Regions from separate parts of the Homo sapiens genome. Here all the other regions are reported to be linked to region 2. The links are microRNA targets in miRTarBase. Many come from high-throughput screens and were not tested one by one. Region 2 holds a microRNA gene; each other region holds the end of a gene's coding sequence.
The links. The annotated mature microRNA hsa-miR-378b reads ACUGGACUUGGAGGCAGAA and lies in region 2 at 1,319-1,337, opposite strand. An mRNA with a match to its seed (bases 2 to 7 or 8) in the 3' UTR can be bound and repressed. Matches are read on the target gene's strand: a 7mer-m8 pairs with bases 2 to 8, a 7mer-A1 pairs with bases 2 to 7 and ends in A, and an 8mer does both.

Region 1: miRTarBase lists HAUS3 as a target of hsa-miR-378b. The part of its 3' UTR that is shown has no 7-base or 8-base seed match.
Region 3: miRTarBase lists SPA17 as a target of hsa-miR-378b. Seed matches in the 3' UTR shown: 7mer-m8 at 1,942-1,948.

Annotation. Positions count from the first base shown.
Region 1 is chr4:2,229,522-2,232,521 of GRCh38, reverse strand. It overlaps HAUS3 (HAUS augmin like complex subunit 3), which reads left to right. Exons shown (of 6, transcript NM_001303143.2): 6 at 362-3,000. The coding sequence ends at 595. All of the region lies in intron 2 of POLN (DNA polymerase nu), which reads left to right. Among named protein-coding and RNA genes, the nearest start is that of HAUS3, 11 kb to the left of the region's middle.
Region 2 is chr3:10,328,247-10,331,598 of GRCh38, reverse strand. MIR378B (microRNA 378b) reads right to left here and starts at 1,370; the gene lies at 1,314-1,370. It overlaps ATP2B2 (ATPase plasma membrane Ca2+ transporting 2), which reads left to right. Exons shown (of 23, transcript NM_001001331.4): 23 at 2,474-3,352. The coding sequence ends at 2,785. RefSeq lists an enhancer at 2,767-3,315.
Region 3 is chr11:124,693,711-124,697,062 of GRCh38, forward strand. SPA17 (sperm autoantigenic protein 17) reads left to right here. Exons shown (of 5, transcript NM_017425.4): 5 at 593-3,352. The coding sequence ends at 736. Among named protein-coding and RNA genes, the nearest start is that of SPA17, 21 kb to the left of the region's middle.

The DNA of each region.
Region 1 (3,000 bases), not on the chromosome of region 2:
CAGAATATAAGCTCCATCAGGGAGATTTTGTTTATTCTTGTATCAGTAATCTCTAAAACAGTACTTGGCACAATAGCATTTGTTGAATATATGAATGCACAGAACAGCTTACATATCGAGTACACTTCAGCAAGAGTTTCCTTTGAATCACTTAAAATTATCTATCAGAAGTTGTTGCAATTAATCTTACTTAGAATTTATATTAAACCTGTTATGGATTTTAAATCGAGGTTTATTTATTGCTAAAATTGCGGGAAGTTATTAAGTCCTTTAAAGTCTTTCCATGTAAATTATATTTTAATTTTATAATTGGTATTAGGAATAAAGTGTTTTAATTTTTATTTTTATTTTCCTTTTTTAGGAGTTAACAGAGCAGTTTCATAAAGTTGAATCTCAACTGAATAAGCTAAATCATCTCCTCACTGATATTCTTGCTGATGTGAAGACAAAAAGAAAAACTTTGGCAAATAATAAATTACATCAAATGGAAAGAGAATTCTATGTATATTTTTTAAAAGATGAAGATTATCTGAAAGATATTGTGGAGAATTTAGAAACTCAATCAAAGATTAAGGCTGTTAGTCTTGAAGATTGAAAATTACTGAAAACTGAATCTTTATTACGTGTCCTCTTTTATTTATTAGAAGACTGTGTATAATAAACACTACTAAATTTTTAAAATTTGAGGTCAATGGAACATTTAATTTGATGAATTGAACTATTATATTAATTTGTCTTTTTTCTCATGTAGTACATTCAGAATACCAGTGCTTTTTATGACTTGAGCATGTGTTTAGTGGTACTTAGTCCTGGTAATTTTTTACTTACAGGGAAAAAGCATTATTACATAATGCAAATATTTTTTAATATAGTTATCTCTCTCCTTTTTAGAAATAGAAATTTTCTGCCGTTAAATTTTTTTTTGAGATAGAGTCTCACTCTGTCTCCAGGCTGGAATGCAGTGGCACGATCTTGGCTCACTGCAACCTCTGCCTCCCGGGTTCAAGTGATTCTCCTGCCTCAGCCTCCCAAGTAGCTGGGACTACAGGCGCACACCGCCACACCCAGCTAATTTTTTTGTATTTTAGTAGAAAAGGGGTTTCACCATGTTGGCCAGGATGGTCTCAATCTCTTGACCTCTTGATCCCCTCTCCCGGCCTCCCAAAGTGCCGGAATTACAGGCATGAGCCACCACGCTCAGCCGCTATTAAATATTTTAAAATGTGTAGAACTTCTAGTCAGCATTTTTAAATCTGTAGACCTTAATATGTGAAATAGCCAAGTCCCCTCATGTTTGACTGTCAAATAAAATTCTGCTGCTCAAATTGTATTCCTCCATAATTCCCTGCTATAGACCTTTAGGCTGTTTTAATGTCCCTACTTGTACCACAGAGTATTAGGACTTCCTTGGCCTGCCTGCATTCATTTTAGAGTCTGAATTCTGGGGACTCAAAAGTTTCTACAAGACAGCTGAGCAGTGCTTTGACTTTAATGTGACTTACACATCATAAATGACTTTCAAATGAAATTTGAATTTCAAAATTCTGTAAAAGTGGTTGCTCAAAAGATGTATGATACTATTTTAATCAGTTTAAGAGCAAAAATGTCTAATTGTATTTAACAATGGTATTTGGGCAGCCAGAAAATATTTTAAGCGTTGCTCTAAAATAATTTGAAGTAGCTCATCTGTTATTACATCAGATGCTTCTTGAGTGCCCAATTTATACATGGCCTGTGGTAAATACCATGTGAGCTTTGTAGGAATACCTTTAAGAATATTCCTCACCTGTTCGTAATATGGAATGCCAATCTAAAAACTACATGTTTTGGGTGGTCTTTATGGAATTTTTTAGCTATAACCATCAGAAAACAGGCATACCTAGATGACAGATGAACCTTCTTGATTTTTGAAACCCATTGAACAAAAATATTTTGCCAATTATTGTGTTTATGTTATTTAAAATTTTATGTAAACCTTAATTTTGTAGCAGTAAATTTTGTTTAAGATTTTGCTATCAGCTCCCTATCACCTGAGCAACTTTTTTTTTGTTGTATATGTTTTTTTCTATTCTATTTCGGAATAGAGAATTTACTTAAAATTTTTATTTTCTCCAAAAATGTGGAAAATATGTCACCTGGTTTCCTGGTTTATGGTAGCATATTCTGTTTAAATTAGTGTCACATATTTAGATGTGTGGCCAGACGCTTGATTTATTAGTTAATTTTTGAGACAGAGTCTAACTGTGTCACTCAGGCTGGAGTTCAGTGGAATGATCTCGGCTCACTGCAACCTCCGCCTCCCAGGTTCAAGTGATTCTCCTGCTTCAGCCTCCTGAGTAGATGGGATTGTAGGCGTGCACCACTGCACCTGGCTAATTTTTGTATTTTCAGTAGAGACGGGGTTTCACCATGTTGGTCAGGCTGGTCTCAAACTCCTGACCTCAAGTGATCTACCCGCCTTGGCCTTCCATAGTGCTGGCATTACAGGTGTAAGCCACCATGCCCCTGCCCAGATGCTTGATTTATACTGTCCCCACCCAAACCTTGACTTGCTCAGCCCAGGGGGCCAGCAGGGCAGATCAAGGCACGGATGGTAGTTGTGTGTCTGCCGTAATTACCCAAGTTACTTATAATCGTTGTGTTACTAGGTAGGTTTATTTGAAGATTTATTTATTTATTTATTTATTTTTTATTTTTTGAGACGGAGTTTCACTCTTGTTGCCCAGGCTGGAGTGCAGTGGCATGATCTCAGCTCACTGCAACCTCTGCCTTCTGGGTTCACGTGATTCTCCTGCCTCAGGCCTCCCGAGTAGCTGGGATTACAGGTGCCACCATGCCTGGTTAATTTTTTGTATTTTTAGTAGAGACGGGGTTTCATCATGTTGGCCAGGTTGGTCTCGAACTCCTGACCTCAGGTGATCCACCCGCCTCAGTCTACCAAAGTGCAGGGATCACAGGCATGAGCTTCCGCGCTCAGCCTATTTGAAGATTTAATAACAT
Region 2 (3,352 bases):
GGCGGGGTGTCCCAAAAAGTCTCGTCCCCACAGTCTTGTCCAGAGCAGTTCATTTTTTCTGTTGTCTCCATGCCACGGGGAGGGCGGAGGGGCCTCATCTCATTGTGTGTCATCCCCTCTGCGTTGTCAGTCACATGACAGGGTCCTGCCACCATCCCCCTGCCCCACACATACACTAGGTGTTCCAGTCAGCATCTGAATTGCACTTCAACCTCAGAACACACTGAGCACCAGGCTAGGCAGCTACAGCCTTGATGCTATTCCCATTCTACAAACAAGAAAGCTGAGGCCTGCAGCGCCTTCTTTGTTTTCAGTTAATCAAGGTGTAACGGCTCACTTTTCAGGAGATCAGAATATGAACCATCTCTGCAGAGCCACAAAGAGGGACTCCAGGGGGAAAGAGCTCAGAGCAGCCACAGTGGCCATGATGGAGCACCAGCATAAAGGCCGTGTCTGGCTGGCTCTTATTTGGCACTTGTTGCCTCTTATTTAAAGCACAATTCCAGCAAGTGGGGTACCCTGGAGTCCCAGCTCACAGTATGCAAGGTGAAAGGACAGAGGTGCTTTTCAGAAAACAGAAAAGTCAGCACTAACTAGTAAGCGATGACTGACAGCAAGGGAGAAAAAACAAGACAATCCATGGGGTCTTACCTAAGACCAAGAAGGATAATTGACAAAGCTTATGTTAAATTCTTCTCTGTGCACTCTAAATTAGAAGTCAGAGGAGCGTATGACATGCTTTAGAAAGAATTCCCTCTGCAACAGTAAAACAAACCTTCAGCGATGACACTTAAAATCATCAACCACAGTCACCTAGAAACTCCACTTCCATAAAAGAGGGCTTTCCCCACCAGGGTTTCACAAAGGAGCTACCCCTGGGTTCCGCTGAGAGCTCAAGTCCTGGGACTTCAGGGGCCTCCCCACGACCGTCTCGTCCAGTCCCCTGCCTCCCCGCAGGCCTGTGGTGCAGGGCAGCCACTGCTCTGCAGGTGGGTGCCACTTGGCCTGCACACAGCAGCCGACTAAGGCTCTGTCCTGGAGGCGCCAACGCCGCCTTGTTTTCTCCACCTCTGACTCCACTCCGAGTTGGGGCTGGGACGAGAGGAGGAGGCACCTTTGTCCCAAGTCCCATCAGACTCTTGAGATGACAGGCACTGCTGCCCCTCCCAGGAGTCCAGAGAAGGGACACCTCTCTTCCAAGTGAGGGTCCCGTCCCTCTGCACCCTGTGAGGCAGGACAGAGGACAACCAGAGAGCTAGTGTGGCTTGTCCACAGTCAAGGCACCAGATGTGGCAGAGCCAGGATGCAAGTTGGGTCTTTCTGCCTCCAAGTCCAGTGCTCTTTCCACTAGCCTTGAAGACTCAATGACCAGCCTCCTCCCATTCTTCAGCGGAGGAAACTGAGGCCCCAGGACGTGTGGTTCACAACTGAGACAGAAAATGAAAGAACTTGCTGTTTTGTGACTCAGTTCCACACACCCCAGAATCCCACTGGGGCTGGGTTTGGCCATCTGATTCCAGCCTCGTTTTTTGGTTTTGTGTTTTCAAAGCACAAATAAAGAAATAAACAAAATCCCCCAGGAAATAAGAGACCCCAAAGCAAGCTCCAATAACTGGCCGGCCAGGGCTTTGAGTCTATACTCGAGTGTTTACCTCCCAAATGCATGAAGGAAAGAAACGCTGGGTACAAACGACCTCCGTTCACATTGTCCAGGCTTCCAAGTGTAGCCGTGTGTCTGTCTGTGTGTGCCATGTGGCTCCCGGCCTCCCCGTGGCATGCAGCCCGCCCCCGAATGTCATCTGTCCGCCAGCTCCCATGTGCTTTCTGGCTGCCTCTGCTCTGCACCTCAGAAAGCCCTGGGTTGGCTTTGGTTTGCTTTGCTGCCTTTGGTTTGATGTTCCCGTTCTGTTTGGCCCTCATGTGTCTCTCTCATCCCAACTCATCCAACCGTCTCTCCTTTCTGTGCCTTTTCTGTTTGTGACACGTAACATGTTCCATGTTGTATGGTTTCTTAACTGTGTGTGGTTTTCCTAAGATGAATTTTTTTAATAGCCTCTCCTCTTTCCTACTTGATTCCCACCTGGTCCTCCTCCCTGTCTGCATGGTTGAACCTCTGCTTTAAAGTGAACAAGGCTCAGTCTCTCACTAGGTGTGGGTGCCCGCAGGAGTCGACTGTGCTTCCTTTAACCACTGTTCCCCATCATCTCTTTGATGGTGCTTGGTGATTCCTCCTGTCCTAACACTAGTTTCTACCAAAACCAAAGAGATTTTTAAAAACCAGCTCAAGGATGCCTATAACCTGAGCCCCCTTTTTCACTCTCCCCCATCCTGTCAATGCTAATAACACCCAGCGACTATGGATTCCAGCCACCTGCTTTGCCCTAACCCTTCTCCCACCCGCCCCTCCTGTGAGCCCCCCGAGCCTGGCTGTGGTCCCTGGGCAGTGCTCCTGACCCCTGTGCTTCCCTTGCAGATCCGCGTCGTGAAGGCGTTCCGTAGCTCTCTCTATGAAGGTTTAGAAAAGCCTGAATCTCGAACCTCCATCCATAACTTCATGGCTCATCCTGAATTCCGGATCGAAGATTCCCAGCCCCACATCCCCCTCATTGATGACACCGACCTGGAAGAAGATGCCGCGCTCAAGCAGAACTCGAGCCCGCCGTCATCCCTCAACAAGAACAACAGCGCCATCGACAGTGGGATCAACCTGACGACCGACACAAGCAAATCAGCTACCTCTTCAAGTCCAGGGAGCCCCATCCACAGCCTGGAGACGTCGCTTTAGCTGAGGACCCTCTCGCCTGCCCGCCCGCCCTCATGGACCCCGCTGCCACCCGCTTTCCGGGCACCCATCCATCCAGGCACCCAACTCACCCAAGCAGCAACGAGCAACAATCGGAAACCAAATACTGGAGAGAAAACCAACGTTTCCACCCACAGACCCTTTCTCTGGCTGCGATGCTGTTTGAACTCTTTTTCACTTCAAGGCAAGGGGCGGGATCTCCACTGGGGGCTTACGGGAGTGAGCGGTTTTCCCAAAACAAGCCCTTCCTGGCTCCCACCCAGACATGGACCAGCCATGCACCCGCCCAGCCACCACGTCCCCCGCATGAATGTACTGTACACTTTCAATCCTCCCCTTGTTTGGTTTTTGGGGGTTGGGGAGGGGTTTTTGTTTGTTTGTTTGTTTTCTTAGGCGGGAACTGCAAACAGACTCTTTTCTGAGACTATTTATCCAATCCACTGGTCTGTGAGTTTTTGAAATGCTTGCACAGCATGGTCTCAGTTGTATAGATTAATTTAATAACTTTTTGAAATTGCAGAGCTTAACTCGCCTAGTAGATTTGCACCA
Region 3 (3,352 bases), not on the chromosome of region 2:
TCATGCATTTTACTGTCTGTAAATTTATAGCTAAAAATTTATACCCAATTTTTTTAAAAGAGGGTATGTGCCAAAGTTCAACCAACCCTGTTAAAACTGACATTATTGGACTAAATGGATTTCTCTTTGGCACCTCACTTTAAATGTATGACGATGATTAACTAATCATTGAGAAATTGAGAAGTTATTCTAATTCATTATATGTAATTGTGATTATTTTGAAACATAACATTTACAGTTCTTTCTTCTTAACATTTTTACCATGCCTCAAGGATTCTTTCTTGTCCCCCCAACCCCCCAAAAAATGTTGTTGCTCAGGAAACTTAAATAGGCACTATTTTAGGGGAAAGAAAGTTGGCAATGATCTTTTGTTGCAGAGACATATTAAAAGAGTGACAAAACAAAATGCCTGCTATTTTGGCATTTGCCATTTGGTACATATACAATGTGACAATATATGAAATTCCCTCAGGAAGCAACAGCTCTCAGATAGTTGCATCCCTAAAATGATTAAATTTCATCCATTTATTTTTGTGGCATCAAAACTACGCCATATTTAAAGAGTCTCTTACTTTTTCTCCTTTCGATGAAGGACTCTTCTGAGGAAGATAAGGAAAAAGAAGAGGTTGCTGCTGTCAAAATCCAAGCTGCCTTCCGGGGACACATAGCCAGAGAGGAGGCAAAGAAAATGAAAACAAATAGTCTTCAAAATGAGGAAAAAGAGGAAAACAAGTGAGGACACTGGTTTTACCTCCAGGAAACATGAAAAATAATCCAAATCCATCAACCTTCTTATTAATGTCATTTCTTCCTGAGGAAGGAAGATTTGATGTTGTGAAATAACATTCGTTACTGTTGTGAAAATCTGTCATGAGCATTTGTTTAATAAGCATACCATTGAAACATGCCACTTGAAGATTTCTCTGAGATCATGAGTTTGTTTACACTTGTCTCAAGCCTATCTATAGAGACCCTTGGATTTAGAATTATAGAACTAAAGTATCTGAGATTACAGAGATCTCAGAGGTTATGTGTTCTAACTATTATCAAATGAATAAATCCTCTCTATCACATCCCCCAAAAATGTTCTTTAGCTCCTGTTTCACTCCTAGTGGTAAAGAATTTCACTGCTTTTTAAGGATAGTCTATTTAATTTTGGAATTTTTAGAAAGATAAGCTGGGACAAAAATCTGCCTCCTTCAGCCTGGCCAACATGGTGAAACCCCATGTCTACTAAAAGTACAAAAATTGGCCAGGCGTGGTGCGCACACCTGTAATCCCAGCTACTCGGGAGGCTGAGGCAGGAGAATCGCTTGAACCTGGGAAGTGGAGGCTGCAGTAAGCCGAGATCGCACCACTGCACTCCAGCCTGGGCGACAGAGCAAGACTCTGTCTCAAAAACAAAACAAAACAAAAAAAAGCCTCTGCCTCCTTGTAAGTTTAACCCACTGGTTTTCATTTATCATACATGTATTCAATCATTTATTGAAAATGTATTGAGTACTATTCATGTGCTGGGAATTAGTAGTGAATACTTGTTCTTACACTCATACAACTTACAATGCTTTATTGTTTTGCTCTCCAGAACCACACAGAACAAGACTAATAACATCATATTGTAAAAAGCAAAAGCTATCATATCATGCTGCCTTCTTCAGTTAAAACTTCCCAAGTTTTTAAATATACAATGGTAATGCCTGTTTAACAAACTCAGAGGCTTTATCTCTTTTATGTTTTCAATGATTCATTCAAATCCCTAGTGCCTTAGTTTTAGAAAGTTCCGTCTCTCCTTTTTGAGGCCTCTCCACCCTTGATTGTCCAAGAAACTGAGGGTTCATGTCTTAGACCAAAGGGTGCAGTTCTCTTCCCAATACAAAAGGTAGAAAGTGGAGTCTTACCATTTAGTTAATGCTGTTGCCTTCTACCATAATGTTGTAGCATAGTCCAGCAGACTGAGGTGATTCTCTGGCTGGTTCCAATTCCTGCCTGCACCATAGTGGATGGCCCATGATTTAGTTCCAGGATTACATCTCTCTTGGTTTATAGTCACAAAGCCAGTGTTCCCCCAAAGCTTAAAAACAAGCCAGGATGGCTCAGTCCTGAGGAGATTCTAAAACCAGGTCTATGTTGTCACAACAAATACTCTCCTACAAACACTTTGATCCTTGTCCTAGGCTTAGACATGCTCTTTCTGCAAAGCAGTTTTATTTCAGGTGCCTCACTGCCCTTCCCTGGCACTGAGCCTTTATCAGGCTCTGCAACAGAGGTTCCCCCAAGTGATCGCCACTCAAACACAGTTGATTCACACCAACCCTTTCAAGGTTGTGGCTTTCATTCTCTAATGTCCACTCATACAGGCAGCCTTTCTCCTTCCAAAATCTTGCTGCCACTGTAGAGAGTTTCATGCTAGCTAAACACAAGTCTCTAATATCCCCCTTCCTCTCCTCCTTAACCCCTCTCCTCCAGGCTTACAGAGGAAAAGAAATCAGTTCTCCTCCAGGATTCCAGCTGTTCGTCCCTCCCATTCCACTGAAAGCACCAGCTTCTAACACCTTCCCCTCTCAGACAGAGCCATCCTGCTTAGCGGATTGTCAAGGGGGGACCCAGAATTTATGCAAAGACTTAGATTCCCTGACCTGGAGAGATCAGAAGAGGAAAAAAGGGATTTTTTCCCTAGTGAGTATATAGCAGGAAAAAAAAAAAAGATGAGTTAGCTTTTTCAGTAATTCTCCTGTTATACACATAAAGTGACTAGCACTATGCATTCCATACACACACACACACACACACAGATCTCATGGTAGTGATATTGGTAGTGAAGGAGGAAAAGGAAAAGGTGAGCAATGGATGTGATATTATGAGAACAACACATATGAATGACACTTTATTAGAACTTATCTGGTTTTCCTCTTATCTCTCTGGCTGTTCCTTCTCAATTCCCTTCACTGGTAACTCTTCAACTCCCCAACCACTAAATGCTAAGTGCCCTTAGGCTCAGTCTTTCGACCCCATTTCTACACTCACTTGATTTCCTGCAGTTTCATAGCTTTAAAATCCAATCTTCTTAATGATCACTCCCAGACCTTTCTCTCCTCTGCCTGCGAACTTCTATATTCAACTGCCTACATAACATCCCCATTTGGATGTCTATAGGCATCTCAAAAGTAACATATAAAAAATGAATCCTGATATTGCCCCCAAATCTGAAACTTCCCCCACACCCAAGTTTTTCCATTCAAAAATGGCTGCTCCATTCTTCCATTTGCTCAGGCCAAAAACCTTGGATTCATCTTTAATGCGTCACTTTCTTTCACACCCCATATACAATCTATCAGCAAAACCTGTGGGCTGT